Linked DNA regions of Homo sapiens: region 1 is linked to region 2. Evidence: fine-mapped expression QTL. A gene starts in region 2. The other region holds a variant in brackets. All regions are shown on one strand. Distances are from middle to middle.

Region 1 (9,112 bases), 50 kb before region 2:
TTATATGCATTATCACATTTACCCCTGACCACTCCACTATGGGGTAGTTATAAAGACCCAAAGAAGCAAAGGACTGGCCTAAGTTTACCCAGCATGGGCTGGTAGAATCAAGATTTGAACCGAGGCCCCCTTGTTCCAAAACTAGAGCTCCTAATCACTAGGCCATATCACCTGAATTTTTTTTCTTTTTTAATTTTAGCAAGGAAAGACTGCCCTGGCTGTGGCCTCCAGGAGCAACCATAGCCTTGTCGTGGGCATGCTCATTAAAGCAGAGAGATACTACGCCTGGAGAGAGGTAAGGAAGGACGATCCCAGCACAGCAGGGGCTTTCCTGGCAACACCCATCTTCTTGCAGGGGCAATGGGGGGGTCTGTGCCATTCTTTGCTCTAATGAGCAGAGCTCTGGTCAGTACAATTATAACTGTCCCTTCTGTCTTGTGCTGCCCCCATTCGTGGAATGAACAGCTGCCTCTTCCTTTGTGGACATCAGACGTCAGAACTGAGAGCGCGTAGAGTTCACTAGGGCCAAGCGGCATTGACCAGGCCAGCTATAATGGGCCTAGCGTGTGAGCCCCTGATGGGTGACGCCTGGTTGTTCCCTCTGTCCACAGTCTGGCCATGAGCTATTCCCAGTAGCACGAATGAGTGGTTAAAAAACTCCTTTGTGTGGCTCGGCAGTTTTCAACACACCGCTGTGCAGGCTTTCAGGCACTCAAGTATTCTGTGAGAGTCACGAAAACCTTATTCATCTAAGAACACAAAAAAACTTGTCTGTAAGTCATTCTTTTTGCTGTTCTTTTATTTTTATTTCCTCTGATATCTGCTACCCATGCAGCTTCTCAATAGACTGCCCTCCCCTGCAAGATTCAACTCCATGCCCTCAGGCAAGAATGGCACTGCCAGGCACCATTCTTGATTTATAGTGATGTGTTGTTTCCATTCTAGGCTGCGTGGCTACCCCTGGCCCAATGTGTTAGCTCCAGAATTCAGGCCCTAATCACTTGGAGCCCACCCTGAGTTTCTACAAACCTGGATTGCTGTCCACCTGGCCAGTCTTGGGAAATTTCCCTTAAATCCTTAAAGCAAAAAGCATTTACTCATCTCCTTCTCTCTCACAATCCTGTTTAATTAGCTTGGTAGTCTTGATATATATGGATTCTTTTAAAGGTCACACCATCCTCCTTGCAACTTTTCTTGCCTGTAAAACAAAACAAAAAAAGTGCTTTGCTTGTAAAACTTTTTATTTTAACAATTGGAACTCTGTTTCTTCTCTCCCATTCCTCATATTTCTATGTTCTTCCATCTCCTCCCTTTACCTCTTCCTCTTTTCCTATCCTCAGGCTCAATTTCTTAAATTATCATTGTATTTTATTGAAGACAACTTTGCCAAGTTCCATCTTTTCTCTTTCTCTTTAACTTGCTTTCACATTTTCTTTGGAAATAGAAATATTCATTGGTTCTATTTTTAATTCCTGATAGCTCTTTAAAAATTATTTTGGGTAGATAAGAATAAATTACTTTCCCACCAAATGAATATGCCCTCTTTCCTAATGAATCTTTAAGACATAAGAGTTAGGTATACTTTGAAAACCATATATAAAACATGAATATAGCTAAAGGAGACCCCCAGAAATGGTAAGAGTTGTTAACTCCGGTGACAATTGGGGTCCTGGGGTCTGGAGTGGGAGAAATACTTGTTTTTTAAGATACATCTTTAAATATTTTTTTAACCAAATGCATTTATTATTTTAAATTCTCTTTGTTCATTGAACAAGTTTATATCCTCGCCTAATATAAAATGGTTCCTAGTAAAAGGATTAAAGATATGATTTAAATTTCCTCTCTCATATCCATTTATCCATTAACCTAACCACCCAATCATCCATTATTAAATTCAGTGGTTCAGAGGCAAATGGGAGCTTCCTAAAACCTGGCTTATGTTATTTTAATTTCCACCAGTTCTGGCTCATGTTATTCCTGCAAATAGTTCAGTGTTTTGGCAGGCAAGCTATTTAATGCTTCACTGGCTGCTGAAAAAGACCTAGGCTTTCCAAATCTCCTGCCCTTTTCAATGGAAGCCTAAGGGACCACCCAATCCAATCCTGAAAGGCACAAACCATGTAAGTTTCTTGAAGAGCTAAAAATGTTATCGCACAAAGATAGATGCAGAAGCATTTTGTGTTCTTCCCTTTCCCTTGTGACATTTAGGCTCTTGATCTTGTTGGATTCATCATTGTTTCAGGAGATGGAATGAGGAGAGAAGGACAAAGTGAAGTGGCCCACAGCTCCCAAGTTTGCTGGAGCTCCCCATCCTCAATCTTACTTCTTTTAGAATTCCTGGGAGCTAGGCACTGTGGAAGTAAAGCTGAGGCTGGGTTGGAGAAGACCCTGCTTTTTACAGTCTCTAAAACAATTATGGGTAATTCACACCTCCCATTCCTATTTCAACTTCTGTACACAAAGTTCAGATACTAGAGGAAGGTTTTGCCCTTCTTGGCCAAGCTTCCCGGGAGGAGCTTATTGCATTTCCCTTGTCGAGCTTCCTGGAGGAGGTTTCTGATGCTGTGAAGGATCCATGGTGGGGGCCCATCAAGTTCTTCTCATCAGTTTTTAAACCCAGGGTCCTAGACAGTTTTGGTTCATTTCCTGCCCCAGCCTGGATTCCCATCTTGTTGTCAAGAATATTTTCATTAAGATACACCTCTATTTAAGTGAAAGACAAAAATAGAAGTCACTATACATGAGAAAGGAAGTCCCAGACTTCTTGGTGGGCCACTTGTCCTGCATGTCCTTAACTGATCTGCAAACTTCTGCAGGAGGATTACCTGGAGGCCTAGTGGCATAAGCACAGCATGCAGTTCTAGGAAGCAGTGATGCCTGCTTTCACTCAGTGATTTTCTCCGGTGTTTGTGGTTTGATTCTGCAGGACTCTGGTGGATTCTGCAGAAGGGACAAAAGGAACCTTTCAACAGTCAGAAAACAAGATGCCAATCTAGGCATAGTGCTGTTGGTCTGAGCCTGGCTATAGTGACTTTAAATGATGTCCACTCCTGTCCTCTCCACTCCCTTAGTCACCTCTTCCCCAAGCCCCAGCCTGAGCTAGGCTCCTAGTTTACTCTCCTTATGCTCACCAGAGAGCAGGATGAATGAGGGACCAGCTGTGGGGTCTTATTAAGGATACAGCCAATCTGGGCTCACCGAAGCTTCAATATGAGAACATCAAATACCCAAAAGAAGAAATGGGGGTATGGGTTCAAACAAAGGCCATTAAAGATGGTTTTGTTGTTGTGACACATCCTTTGCCAAGACAGCCTCTCTGTTCTCATTCTCTGTTCTAAGCAGCATGGGACACAATAGGCAAAATCCCTCACATTTCCTGTGTCAGACAGACGGTACCCAAGCTTTTAATTTCAAGCATTTATTTCCATTTTGGATGGCAAAAAAAAAAAATATATATATGATCCAGTGACAGGAGGCATTGAAAACATAGTCTCGGTTACCACCTTACTAGTTATGTTTGAAAAACATATATACTCTGAAATAAGGTAATAAGTAGAACATGTCTGAAATCTTCTGATACAATTATTTTCACTTTAGGAGCATCATGAGAGCATCAGGGACCCGTCAACAGGCTTTACTCTGACATTCAAGCAAGATCACAGTCTGGAGACCAGACACATTCGCACGCTTCTCTGGGACCTGGCTTACCATCAGCTGAAGGCCAATGAGTGGCAGAGGCTGGCCCGTTCGTGGAACTTTACAGATGACCAGATTAGAGCCATTGAGGAGCAGTGGTCGGGTGAGTACAGACTAGATGATGTGGGCAGGAGGAATTCACTGTTAGGAACAGCAGTGCCTCCTGGTGTGAGGTCTTCCAAGGAAGTGTGTGGCACTCACAATAAGCTGCAGTCTTCAAGGGGCCCAGGAATAGGGGCAGTTAGCTTAGGTCCACACCAGTGATTTGGGCATTAAGATTTGCAGAAAGTGAACACTCATGGTCTGCAGTAAACCGAAGTTTGTAAAGGATGATTATGTGTATTGACCCATATCAGACATGTGCATTTAGCCTAGAGAGACAGTAAGATTCCCAACTGGACGGTCACTAAGGAAGCAAGCAAGGATTTAACAGTTGGTGTGTCAGTGGGAAGCCAATCTGATTTCTATGTTCCTTGAGACTGTCCTGGGGTGAATGGGTTCATTCTGTAATCAATAGGCTCGCTGTTTAAGTCTGCGCTCCAGAAAGAGGAATTCCTTAAAGCAGGTGGGTGT[A/G]GGAGAAAGGGTTGTTGTAGGACACTGCCTTAGGGGAGACTTGGCTGTGCCATGAGCGACACGGCAAATACAGACTCAGAGGGCTTTCTTGGCTAGATGATTCCAAGCAATGGAATCATTTCAGCTGGACTCAAACTGTCATAATTAGTGAAGTCAGGTCAGCTAGATTCCTTAATTTTGTTTTTTGTGGTTAGACGAAAACCTAGGAAACATAGAAAGTTTACTTGGCATTAATCAACTAATTAGCTTTGAAAACAATGAAGCAAACATGTTTCTTGGCAAAGTTTTCTATTCAGAGCACTGCCCTCTCATGGACATCCTAAGACGAGAAGGTGTCCTTGCTCAGGGGTCTATTTGTATTAGGGATTGCTGGGAACTGGGGATGGCAGAAGCACAGTCCATGAGCACACACTATTTATACCACATACAAGTAAATTATGAGACTTTGTATTGCACATTCTTAGGATACATTTTCATGTGAAAAATAGAAGATAATGTATTGAAAACATTGAATACTAACTAGTTTCTAACTAGAAAAATTTTTTTATTGTTAAGATTTCTTTTTTGTCATTAATTAGGCTTATAGTGTTCTGTGAAGTCTTTAGGAAAATTGAGTTGCCTCCTGGAACTCTAACTTGACCTAAAGAGATGACTTGAAAATATAGTGTATCTTCAGAGTACTTGCCAGCAGGATAAGGGGGATTTTAAAGTGTTTCGATGGAACCTTTATGGAGGGCCTGGAGTGTTTATTTCTGCTGGATGAGGGATAGATACATCAGCTCTCTAAGCCATGCATGTTTGATGGAGTTTATAATCTAGTTGGCACAATAACAATGACACTTGCAATTCAATTATATTGTGATCCAGGGTAAGGTTACTGGCACTGGGGAGTTTGTGGGCTTTTGATCAAAGGAGTGACAGACTCATGATGGTATTTAAGAAAAATTAGTTTGTCAAGAGCAAGATTAGGAAAGGAACAGAGGACTTGTCCAGGAGTACATTCTGTAAGTATGCAGTTCCCTCTCCCTGAAATGCCCGCTTCTCCATATCAGTCTGTCCAGTGAACTTCTCCCTCACCCCTGCAGAGCTCAGGCCCTTCCCTTGCACAGCATGTCTGCTCCTGCACACTCTCTCTCAGAGCAAGGAGCCTGTAGTGAAGTCCTGTTGGGAACCACAGAGGCTTTGTGGCTCCCTATCCCGGTACTTCCCCCAACACCTCTCTAGGCTGAGATATGCAGTGAGTATTTATCAAATGAATAATCCTGGCCCAGGGATGCAAACTTCCCTCAGAGTAGCTTCCTTGAGACTGGAGTGGCAGAATGAATGGTGCATGCTTGCTGCTCAGAGTGGGGAATATGGAGCAGCAGTGGCAGCAGCACCCGGGAGTTTGTTAGATGCATGGATTCTTACCCCAGACCTACTGAATCCAAACTTGCATTTTAGTAAGATACCCAGGTGAAATAAGCACTGTGAGTTTGAAGAGCACTGGTCTATGAGAAGTTGCATATTTCATTAAAATTGTTCCCCCTGGGCAGGCACCACAGCTGTCCTCTCTCTTGTACACTCCTTTGGGTGTGTGCCAAGCATAGCAGGTGCATAGCACAGGCTGGAGGGAAAGCAAATGCTGGTCATCATAAAGCAGCACAGCGAGGGCAACTGGAAGGGCTTTTTTCGAAGAGGAACAGGCAAGCAAACAGTCATTCAGAAAGTTTAGTTGGAACTGAGATCACAATGGAAAGAGATAGCAGCTCGTGGTGTTTTACCTCGGACCTCTTGTGCTTGGCACAGGAAATGAAAGCTTCCGTGAACATGGCCACAGGGCTCTGCTTATCTGGCTACACGGGACCCTGATGACTCAGGGTGACCCGGCCAAGCAACTGTATGAAGAGCTGGTACACGCAGGTTTCCCAAAACTAGCTGGTAAGTGACAGTTTCAACAACAGAAATTCTTTCTCCCTTAAAATTTCAGGAAGCAGTCTACAGAAATATCATCCTGACCAGCTACAGCCCCAGCGTGGTGTTAGCTGTGGCTCACACGGAGTATGGAACTATGGAAGGGGCTTGTAAGCTGTCAGCAGCTTCTCCTTTGGGGAATGACCCAGTCAATACTGGTTACTCATTAGCCTGGCAGTTCTGTGTCATCCCCCTACTCAGCATTTGAAAAAGTGTGGGAGTGTTTTTGTTTATGTGTATGTGTGGTGGGGGCAGGTGGGGTGGGGCAGAAGTGCTAAACTATCCCATACAGTTATAGGATTGTTCTCCACGACTAAGAGTTGTCTTGCTCAAAATGCCATTTTACCCCTGTTGATAAACTGCAGGTTAGTGTATTTGAAAATGTTATCTCTAGGTAGAACAAAAAGAGCAGACAGGCTATTACTTTGCCACCTGAGGTTATTGCTAAAAATCAGTCTGCCAAAATCACTGACCATATTGTCAGGAAAGATCCTTTAAAAACTTATCAATAAATTAGGCGGTGTTGTAGCTCTCATGTAATAACAAGCATTCAAGCAAAATACAGGAACATCTGCCATTATTTTCACTGAAGCAGTTTTACCTGGAGCAAGAAGATAAATGAGTGAACACCGACTGATCCAATAGTTTCCAGCAGTAGTAGGTACAAGGAACAATGTGTGGATACTTACCTTCCATCACATGATCTCATAATATTGGAGTTTTTCCCTCAACTTTTACCCTGTTCCCATTGGCCCCGAGAATACTCACCAGTGGTGCTTGCAGCATTTACCCTGAAAAAACTTTGCCATGAATTATCTTGTTTTTATTATTATTTTTGGATCACTCTAGTATATTGACTTTGGAAACAAAAGATATCATTCTACTTATAGCATTCTGGTTTTACTAGTGGTATTTCCATTTACAAAATATGGAAATTCTTGATCATTGAAAATGTCAAGTCCTAGAAAATGTAGCATTCCTATATGTGATGTTAACATCGTTCTCAAACAATTGTTGGCCAAAGATTCATTCCATGAATCCAATTTTTCAGAAATTGATGATTCGGATGATTCAGACTATTCTGATGTTAGTTCTGTTTAGAAATAACTCCAAGAAGTTTGTATATTTGTTTTTCACAATGAAAATCAGATTTGCTTCAGCCTCAAAGAGCGTATTTATGTAAAATTGAAGAAGTGCTGGCAGTGAGCTGCACTTTTTTTTCTAAATGGGAAAAGGGTTAAATGTATTCTTCCTATGAAAGAGGTTCCATAAGAACTCTTAGAGAAGATGAAGATGCAGTCCACTGAACTGGCTAAGGGTATGTGTTCTGACGCAAGGCTGTGTGAGCTCACTCTTGAACTCCAAAGCTGACTGACTGGTTGTAAACCTCGAGCAAGTTCTATGACCTTCCTGTGACAACCTTCTCATTTATTAACTAGGAAAGAAAATAAAAATGTTTACTTCAAAGGGCTGTTGTGGGATTTAATGAATAATAGTGCCTGGTAGACAATCAGTGCTTTAAAAATTTTAGGTATTCATAAATGTTATCTTATTTTTTCCAGAAAAGACTCGTCATTTCAAAAGCAAAACTGACTCAAACTCCAAGAAATGTGTAGTTTCATAAATGCCTAAAGAAATTGTATTTACATGATTTTCCACTCAGCATTCAGTTCTTTTAATGCCATAAATTTCTTCTAGCAGTAGCACTGATTTTCAACTATGATGATGGTGGTGACAGGGAACTCTAACAGATGAAAGAAGAGTAATACCATGATACTTTTCAACCACTAAAAAGTCAAATATAGTTTTTTTTGCTGAGGGCAAGTTGTATGTGATTTTCCCATTTCTATCAATCATTTGATGTAATCCATGTAATAAGATAATCTAGGACGGTTTTGTATGTCATGTTTTTTTAAAAAACTCATGGGAGCAGCATCATGGTACAGTAAAAAAACAAGGGTTTTTATAATAGACAAATATGGTTTTGAACTTGGTTTTGCCACTTATTAGATGTGAACCTTTGGGCATGTTAATGTTGTTTACGTTCTTAGATCTTCAGTTTCCTTCTCTATAAACTGGGAGAGATGTCTATTTAATCCATAGGGTTGGAATGAAGATGAAGGGAAAATGCCTGTGTAGCCTCACGCCCATAGTACGGAAATCAACTGCTATTTCTCTTTCAGTAAGAGAAACTGGGTTTGGAATTTATAGTCATTGTTGACTTTAAATCACACATTTTGTGTAATATATTACTTAGGAAAGACCAGAAGTATGTACACCATTTTTTTTTTTTTTTAAATCTCTTGGTGATGTAATTACAGATGATTATTTTCTTTGTACTTTTGGGTACATTCCATTCTTTTTTTCACAAAGAACATGCATTATTTTTGTAATCTAAGAGTTATGAAATAAATGTAAAATTGAGTGTCAGTTTATGTGCACCTATTCATTGGAATTTAAGACTCTCCATTCTCAGATTCTGACTCTAAATTTACAAGGCACATACTAAAACCATAAGCAATTTCAATCCAGTTATTCTATCATGAATTTATAGTTTTATGTCTTTGTCTCATACTGATTATAAATGGCCCACTTAATCTTATGAATGTTTAAAACAGGTAATAGATTCACATGATTCCAAAACGTTTTTCAAAAACATATTGAGAAGAAGTATTGTCCCATCTGTTCTTCAGTATGGCCAGTTTCCACTGACCTCTCTTTCTCTATTACTGCTCCCCACCAGATTGGGGTAACCTCTTTATGCAAAAATAAACAAATATGAATATATACTATAACTGTGTCAAGTGTTAAACTGTTGAATTTACATTAACTTAGGCCAACACTAATTGCTTGGTGCTTTAGACAACATACATTTCTAGAGCTTAAAGCT
Region 2 (9,112 bases):
CAATTTGTGCAAATTCCCTTCTTGGGAAACTTACCTTTGGAAATATTATTTTAAGAAAAGTGAGCTTATACAGAACAACAGAATCAAATATATGCATAGAGAATTTGTTGAAAGTCCTAATCAAAAAATCATTAAAAGTACTTTTAGTAACAAGTAACCGAATTATTCAAAGAACAAATAGTGACTATTCGAACTATCTGAATACCAGTAATATGTAAGACATTGGTGAGGAATGTAAAATGAAGTCCTCATTCTTAAGGAGTTTACAATCTGTAGAGAGGGCCAGGCATGTATATTATATAAGTGACCGACTGATGAATAAACTGCTGATAGGCCCTAAAATAACAGATACAAAGTAGAGAGATAGGAGTAGCTATTTTTCATGGGGTAAGATTGCATGACTGTAAATAAGCAGGAAAGGAGGCACAGAAAGTTTTTAGAGAAGATGACCCAGGTGTTGAGATCTGAAAGATGAGTAGGTCTCATCCTGAAAGATGGATAAAAGGTATAAACACAGGTGTAGATATTCTAGGCAGTAGAGCAATATAAGCAAAGACAGAGCCATGGACATGTATGCCACGAACAGCAAGCAGTTTGGTAAGGACAAAGCAATGGGTGCAAAGGATTGGCTAAGGATGAAACAAAAAGTAAGGAGCAGCCAGATCATGGAAGGTCAAAACTTGTCATATTAAAAATCTGGGTGTTTATTCTAGACAAGTTATTGAAATATTTTTTAAAAGTTACATGATCAGAAAGATCATTCCAGCAGCGTTGAGGATGAATTTGGATATTAAGAGAGATCAGGCTGGGTGCAGTGAATCATGCCTGTAATCCTAGCACTTTGGGAGGCTGAGGTAGGTGGATCACCTGAGGTCAGGAGTTTGAGACCAGCCTGGCCAACATGGCGAAACCCTGTCTCTATTAAAAATACAAAACAATTAGCCGAGCCTGGTGGCAGGTGCCTGTAATCCCAGCTACTTGGGAGGCTGAGGCAGGAGAATAGCTAGAACCCTGGGGGTGGAGGCTGCAGTGAGCCAAGATCGCACCACTGCACTCCAGCCTGGGTGACAGAGACTCCGTCTCAAAAAAAAAAGAGAGAGAGATCAATTGAGAGCTGACTGCAGTAGTCTAAGAGATAAATGTTCTCTTTGATAGTAATTAAGAAGATAAATGATGACCTAAGTCTAGGAAGTAGCAATGGGAAGGGGATGGAGGGTATGACTACAAGACAGTTGTGTTATGGTGATGGAAAGAGAAAATGATCAATAATAGATCAAGGGGTTAAAAAGAACTGTTGGTGGCTTCCAGATCTCCGGTTTGGGTAACTAGATGGATAGTGCCACTCACCAAGGCAAGGAAGGTAGGAAGATGAGCAGGTTGGGAGGAAGGACAATGAGTGCCATATCAGATGAGCTGGGTGTGAGGATGCCTCTGAGGCACTAGGGTAAAGCTGCAAGTATGCAGTCTGTGGTCACACTGGCTACGTAGTGCGCTACTCCAAGAACTGCCATTCACAATGGCTACACTGTGAATGGTGTTTCCTGGAGTTAAGCATTGTGGGAGCGCCGCACTGGAGGTATAAGTTGGAGATCCAGTTTGAGGAATCACTGGCATAATGGGAACTGCTGAAAAAAGGGAATGGATGAGACCACCTATAAAAAAGGAATGTGAGAAAAAGTTCTTATCCTGAGGTCCTGTATTAGTACGTTTTTCAAACTGCTATAAAGAACTGCCCAGGCCGGGCACGGTGGCTCATGCCTGCAATCCCAGCACTTTGGGAGGCTGAGGTGGGAGGATTACGAGGTCAGGAGATCAAGACCATACTAGCTAACACGGTGAAACCCCGTCTCCACTAAATACAAAAAATTAGCCTGGCGTGGTGGTGGGCGCCTGTAGTCCCAGCTACTTGGGAGGCTGAGGCAGGAGAATGGCGTGAACCCGGGAGGCGGAGCTCATAGTGAGCCAAGATCGCGCCGCTGCACTCCAGCCTGGGCGACAGAGTGAGACTCCGTCTCAAAAAAAAAAAAAAAAAAAAAGAACTGCCCAAAACTGGGTAATTTATAAATAAAAGAATTTTTATTGACTCACAGTTCCGCATGTCTGGGGAGGCCTCAGGAAACTTAAAATCATGGTAGAAGGGGAAGCAGGCACATCTTAGATGGCGGCAGGTGAGACAGTATGTGAGAGAGTGCAGGAAAAACTACCATTTATAAAACCATCAGATCTCGTGAGAATTCACTATCATGAGAACAGCACGGGGGAAATCGCCCTTATAATCCAATCACTTCCCTTCCCCTACATGTGGAGATTACAATTGAAGATGGGATTTGAGTGGGGACACAAGACCTAACCATATCAGGTCCCTATACCCGACTCGTATGCAATATTTTTATCATAAATGTGAATGTGTATTTTTCTAGAAAGAAGATCTTTCGCTTTAAATATGCGTTCAGAGGGGACCATAGCCCTAATAGAGTTAAGGACTACGACTGTGAATGAGAAGAGGGTTAAAGCCAGAACCACTAACATCTAAAGGGCAAGAGAAGAACAGTCAGCAAAGAAGAGGAGTCAGCAAAGGAAGTCAGAACATTAGAACTATGGAAGCAATATCACAACTTTGAGAAGAAAATAGAATTAGATGCCAAAGAACCATGAGGATTGGATAGAATTTGGAGATTAGGAGGTTGCTGAGACGTTTGCTTGAACAATTTCACTGGAAAGTAAAACAATTACAGGTCTTAGTCACAGTGGGCTGAAAAATAAATGAGAGATGAGGAAATTGAAATAGAAAAGGAAGATACAGGGAAAAGTGCAAAAATAGAATGGAAACACAGGCTGGAACTAAATTGTGGAAAGGAAAGTTCAACTTTTTCCAGTGAGTATCACTGTGCATACACATGTTAAGTAAACTAAATCTCAGCATGACTGTCTTTAGTTAAGCCAATTAGGGAGGATAAAATAAGTGCATGTATCTGCAGCAAGGAATGGCTGCTTCACTGACTTCAAATCTACCACTGTGATAACTTGGTCCATTTATATTTTTATTCACTTCTTCCTTCAGGATTTGAGACCAGGCAGGTAACAGGGGTGGGGGGGGGGGGGTGCTGATTATTTAAAAATGAGCTAGTAAGTATGGTCAGATCTCAAAAATTGTTTCTTAATATGGACACACTGCAGACACAAAAAAACCCACCGCACTCTTGGAAAATATGCTATCTTCCATCTGCCCTGCTTTATGTCAACAAGGTATGAGTTATTTGAAACTCTAGAACAGTAGCATTTTCCTTACTGTTTCTAGGTTCAGAAACAAAGGAGAAAAATGAAAACTGCTTTAATGGGTGGCGGACGCACATTAGTTCACTACATTTTCAGTAGTCTCTAATCCAAGGTATCAGAAAACAAGATCAAAACTTTTGTGTGCTTCTCTGTTGCCAGAAACATAAAATAACATCTTGGTAATTATCTGGCTGACAGCAAAACAGGGGTCTGGGAATTCAAATGGAACCCCCAAGAGGCAAAGGAAGAGCGAATTAACATGCAAACTAGCAGCAGGGTGATGTCGCCTGTGCCTTTCACCAGGCCTAGCTGCACTCAAGGAAAGGGGCGCGCCAGCCCCTCCCCAAAGCAGGGACTAGAAGCAGAGGAGAAAAGCCATTGCAGTAAGCAAAAGGCCATAAGTTTTCTTCCATCACCTTCCGACCCAGCCTGTTTTAAGAAAAATCTTACTTAAGCACAACAGAGCTTTATACATGGTTATTTTTTCTCAACGTTTTAAGTGACCGGAACCTCTGATGACAGTAATCGCTCAGCATCCCTCACTCCTGCTCACTTCCTCTTCCTGCACGCCTCGGAGGGGAAACTTTGGGACCTTCCGGCACAACAGCTGAATCACTCGCGGTCTGGGGAAGAGCCCAGGGGGAGGAAACACGCGCCAAGGAACTTTAAATCTCCCTCCACTACTTTCGCCAGGGATGCAGGGACGCAGGATCTGCCCGGAGCGCTGCTACCCACCGTCGCCGCTCGCGACCAAATCCCGACTCCTCGCTCTGCGCCTCTTAGCCGCGTCGCAGCTGCAGTGTCAGCAAGTGCAGCCTCAGCAAGCACAACCGCTACCTAGACGGCAACCTGACAGTTTCAAACTGCAGGGAGGAATTAAGGACCGCCCTGGGCATTGGTCCTTTGTTTCAGCAATCTGCCGTTTGATTGGTCCGAGAGCTGGGGGCGGGGATTTGGGCCGCTGCCGGGAGAAGCCGGAATTACTTTGGAGAGCCCCGCCCCCTGGCTCCGCAGGTTGGTAGGGGGCGGGGTCCTAGGGAGCCCCACCCAGCGCCCGTGGGGATTAAATATTGCGCGTGCTCAGTTCTGTTCAGCGGCTGCAGGCTGCTAAGCGGCTCCGGGAGCTGATTTGGATAGAGGCTGTTGAGCAGGGCTGAAGTTGGCTAATGCCGTGTGCTGTTGGCTTTCAACAATTCCGGTAACCTAGATATGAGTCCTAATGCTTTCGTCTGCATAAGAACAATCCGAAATTCTGGGCCAGGTGTGGTGGTTCATGCCAGTAATCCCGGCACTTTGGGAGGCCGAAGTGGGAGGATCGCTTGAGCCCGGGAGTTCGAGACTAGTCTGGGGAACATAGGGAGACCCTTTCTCTATAAAAAATTAAAAACAAAAAAAAAATCTGCATCATCCACAGATCCCCTGCAACAGAATCACTTGGAGGTGCTTTTTTTTTTTTTGAGATGGAGTCTTGCTCTGCCGTCCAGGCTGGTGTGCAGTGGCACTATCTCGGCTCACTGCAACCTCCGCCTCCCAGGTTCAAGGGATTCTCCTGCCTCAGCCTCCCGAGTAGCTGGGATTACAGACGACCGCCACCACGCCTGGCTAATTTTTGTATTTTTAGTAGAGATGGAGTTTCACCATGTTGGCCAGGCTGGTCTCGAACTCCTGACCTCAGGTGTTCCGCCCACCTCGGCCTCCCAAAGTGCTGGGATTACAGGCGTGAGCCACCACGCCCGGCCGAAGGTGTTGATTCCTTCGGTCATGGACACCGTCAGGAAATCTGAATTTTTAACACACACTGCCAGTGATTCTGATGCAGGAGTCTGCAGACCACCCTTTGAGAAATTGCTAGTCTAGGCTGGGCGCGTTGGCTCACGCCTGTAATCCCAACACTTTGGGAGGACGAGGCAGGCGGATCACCTGCGGTCAGGAGTTCGAGACCAGGCTGGCCAACATGGTGAAACCCCATCTCTACTAAAAATACAAAAATTAGCCGGGTGTGGTGGCTTACGCCTGTAGTCCCAGCTACTCCGAAGGCTGAGGCAGGAGAATCCCTTAAACCCAGGAGGCAGAGGTTGCAGTGAGCCAAGATATCGCCACTGCACTCCTGCCTGGGTGATAGTGAGACTCTGTCTCAAAAAACAAAGAAAAAACCAAAATTGGTAGTCTAGTTTTAACTAATCTCAAACGTGTCAGACTTCAAGATAGAGCCTTCTGGTGAAGTATTGGCCTTAGAATCAGATCATAATTATAATCTAGCTTTACCATCTACTCGCTGTCACCTTGGATAATACTACTCACATACTAAGGTGGTAGGAGATTAAAGGAATTAATATATCTAAAACACCGAACACACAAACATATAGTCTTTCAACTTACATTGGCAACAGATAGGCTAGAGGTATGAGGACCCAGATGGCAAAGGTACCTAAGTAGCCCAGACTGGGGTTCTGCAATCTGAAGAACAGATACTGAGATCTGGGTGAGTTTTCAGGCTCCCTTCTGTTACCTCCAGTATAAGGTTTCTTTTTCTGTAGATAGAAATGACATAACCTGGGTCTCACTTACTTTTATGTTGGCAGAACCAGACTTCTACTTACACAAACAAGTAAGAAGAGCACCAGAAGTTTCTTTGGCATAAATTATGTTTGTTCTCCCCCTTTTTTTTCATGCTTATTATAGAGGACAAGTTCCTATTAATAGCTGCAAATTCATACTTGGTTCTAGTATTTGTTTTTTAATTGAATTGCCTTTTGGTGACCCCATACACTATAATTGATACTGAATCACTCTTCTGGTGCCCTCCTGCCACTAGGCTCCAAGTTTCTCTTTTCTGTCTTCCTTTTTGGGGAGGAGAGATTTTTATCGCAAACCATTTAGTAAACAATCCCATTCTCCTGTAAAACTATAGAGAGAAAGAGACAGAACCTTGTCTGGATGTTATGAATTTAGAACTGATATCTTTTCCCAAGGTTCCTAGAGAGGGAGGGAAAGAGAGAGAGAGAGAATTTAAAGCCCCCACAAACCCATAATAACTTGGTTGCCAGCTTGAACCCTTCATAATTATTTATTCATTCAACACAAATATTTAACATCTGTCACAGGCAAAGCAAATTTTTGTTGGTGCTGGGGATAGAGTGGTGAGCAAAACACAGTTTGCCCTCATGGAACTAAGAGTCTAATGGGAAAAACCGATATCAAACCAACAAATCCACCACACATATGAATACATAACAGCTGTGTGAACCTGGGCAAGCTGCATAACCTCTCTGTACTTCGGTTTCTGTATCTGAAAAATGAGGGTAGGAATTCGCTCACTGAGAATTAAATTAACGTAGGTGCTATTCTTATCCTCATTTTTCAGATAGAGAAACTGAAGCACAGAGAGGTTATGCAGCTTTCCCAGGTTCATGTAGCTGGTAAGAACAGAGTCCATGTTCTTATCACTCAAGATGTTCTGTTGGGGACGGCATGCCATGGTCTTAAGGTAAGAAAGGGCTAAGTGAGTGAAGAGAAAGTGGCACAGGATGAGGCTGCAGATAGAGATGGAGGCCCAACTATGCAGGACTTGTTAAGGATTTGAGATTTTAAGTTCAATGGGATGTATTTTAGATATTCAGGAGAGAGATGAGGACAACTTGAACTAGACGAGTGGCAAAGGAGATGGAGAGAAGACAGAAATGAGATACAGTCATCACTTGCTATTCCTAGGGATTGGTTCCAGGACCACTCCTGATGTCTTCCCCTCCCCCTCCGCCAAAGTAAATACCAAAATTGAGGATGCTCAATTCGCTTATATAAAATGGTATAGTATTTGCATATAACCTACAGACATCCTCCCATGTACTTTAAATAATCTCTAGATTACTTATAATACCTAACATAATGTAAATATATGTATGTAAATGGTTGTTATATTTTATTGTTTTTTATTTGTATTATTTTTTACTTTTAAAATTTACTTTTTTGAATATTTTTGATCCACGGTTGGCTAAATCTGCTGATGTGGGACCTGAGGATATAGGGGGCCAACTGTATGTTTTGGAGGTATAATTGGTGGGACTTGATGATAGGATTTGGACTGTATCTGAGGTGAAGGAGAGAAAAGTGTGAAGGACTCCAGGTTTCAGGTTTCTCGCTTGAGCAACTGAGTGGATGACAGCATCAGATATTGAGGAGAACACTGGAAGAGGAGCAGGTTTTGAAAGTGGAAGATCAAAATTGAATTTTAAACATTCTTTAAACATGAAATATCTGGAGATACCCAAATGGAGTATCCATCAGACCACTGAACTTACATGTCTAGGGCTCAGAAAAGAGGTCACTGCCTAGATATATAAACTGGGTGGCTTTTGCATATAGATTTTGTGGAGGATTGCAAAAATGGCTCCAATTCTACATCTCTCCAGGTATTGATGTCCTGTGCCATGCAATTTCACTTGGAGTGCTTCTCTACTAATGACCAACGGAATGTTAACAAATATGATGCAAGCGGAAGTTTCAAAATACTTACGTGCTTGGCTTAGCTTGCTCTTGCCCTCTGTTACAACGATGAAATACGCCTGGGCTAGCCTGCTGGAAGATGAAAGACACATGTAGTAGAGCCAAGTTGCCCCAGTCATCCTAGCCAAGGCCATCCTAGGTCAGCCTATAGCCATTTGACTCCCCAACAGGTGTGTGAATCTAAGAACCACCCAGACAACCTACAGAGTCATGAACTCAATTATTATTGACTGTTTAAAGTCACTGTGTTTAGGGTGGTTTGTTATGTAAGCTTATTATGACAATAGATAACTGATACAGATGCACTTTAAAGCCAAAGAACTAGATGAGACAATCTAGTGGGGGAGAGCAAAATGAGTAGAGAAGAGGATTTGGAACTGAACCCTGATGTCCTCTAATGTTTAGAGGTTGGGTAGCAATGGAGGAGCCAGCAAAGGAGACTGAGAAGGAGGTGCTGGAGAAGTGGGAGGAAAACCAGCAGAGGCTTCAGTAAAATGCTAGTGAAGTGACTATTGTGTTTGACAATATGGAGTTCCCCCATGTCTTGGCCCTTCCATGGGCCCCAAGTTCTGAACCTCCTCTAGTACCTGTCTTCTTTCCATCTCTCATGTTTTTGGTTAAGCCACTGCTGAATTTGGCTTGGACTGTTTCTTGATTGTATGCCTTCATTTCTTCTTTCTACAATTCACTCTTCACACTGCTGATAAACTATCTTCTTAGAATATCACTGGATTGCATCACCTATCCAAAAGCCTTCCACGGTATTGCATGGCATCCAAAGCTCTCCTAAACCAAGCCCCACAAAACACCAAAAGGACTATGCTGGAGTCCCCAAATGTACCACTTATCAGGTAGGAAACTTTGGGGCAGGTGTACATTCTTTATATGCTTGAGTTTCATCTCTTTAAAATTGAGAAAGTATTAGAACATATAAAATCTAACTCTACATCTAAACCAGGACCTGAACGTAAATCTATTGTCTCTCTCTCTCTCTTTTTCTGTCTCTCAATATCAGTTCCCTCCTGCTCTAGTAAACTAATTGAAGCTGAGCATATAGCTGCATAGCAGGACTACCTTTTCCACCTACCTATCAATTAAGTGAGGCCAGAAGCCATAGAATGTGAGTGGAAATGCAGTGTATCACTTCCTGTGAACTGGGATTTAAGACATTAGGTGTCTTTCTCCAAGTCTTCTTCTCTTTTCCCACTATGGTGGGCTGCATGACCATGTGGAATATAACTCTCCTGCTAGTTCTGTAGTATGAGAAAACATCTTTTTAAAAAAGTTTTTATATTTGAGGGTCAATTTTTCATGGCTTTTAACTAACACCACA

What was found.
Region 1: its variant is fine-mapped to the expression of POC5 in whole blood (INTERVAL, PIP 0.92).

What each region holds. Positions count from the first base shown.
Region 1 is chr5:75,663,195-75,672,306 of GRCh38, forward strand. It overlaps ANKDD1B (ankyrin repeat and death domain containing 1B), which reads left to right. Exons shown (of 14, transcript NM_001276713.2): 11 at 200-295; 12 at 3,598-3,799; 13 at 6,058-6,189; 14 at 7,785-8,652. The coding sequence ends at 7,846. Among named protein-coding and RNA genes, the nearest start is that of POC5, 50 kb to the right of the region's middle. RefSeq lists enhancers at 175-1,374, 3,785-4,286. The variant A/G (reference allele first, on the strand shown) is at 4,270.
Region 2 is chr5:75,713,295-75,722,406 of GRCh38, forward strand. POC5 (POC5 centriolar protein) reads right to left here and starts at 4,143. Exons shown (of 12, transcript NM_001099271.2): 1 at 4,012-4,143. LOC441087 (a long non-coding RNA gene) reads left to right here and starts at 4,138. Exons shown (of 3, transcript NR_149046.1): 1 at 4,138-4,290; 2 at 6,641-6,763. RefSeq lists an enhancer at 3,539-3,848.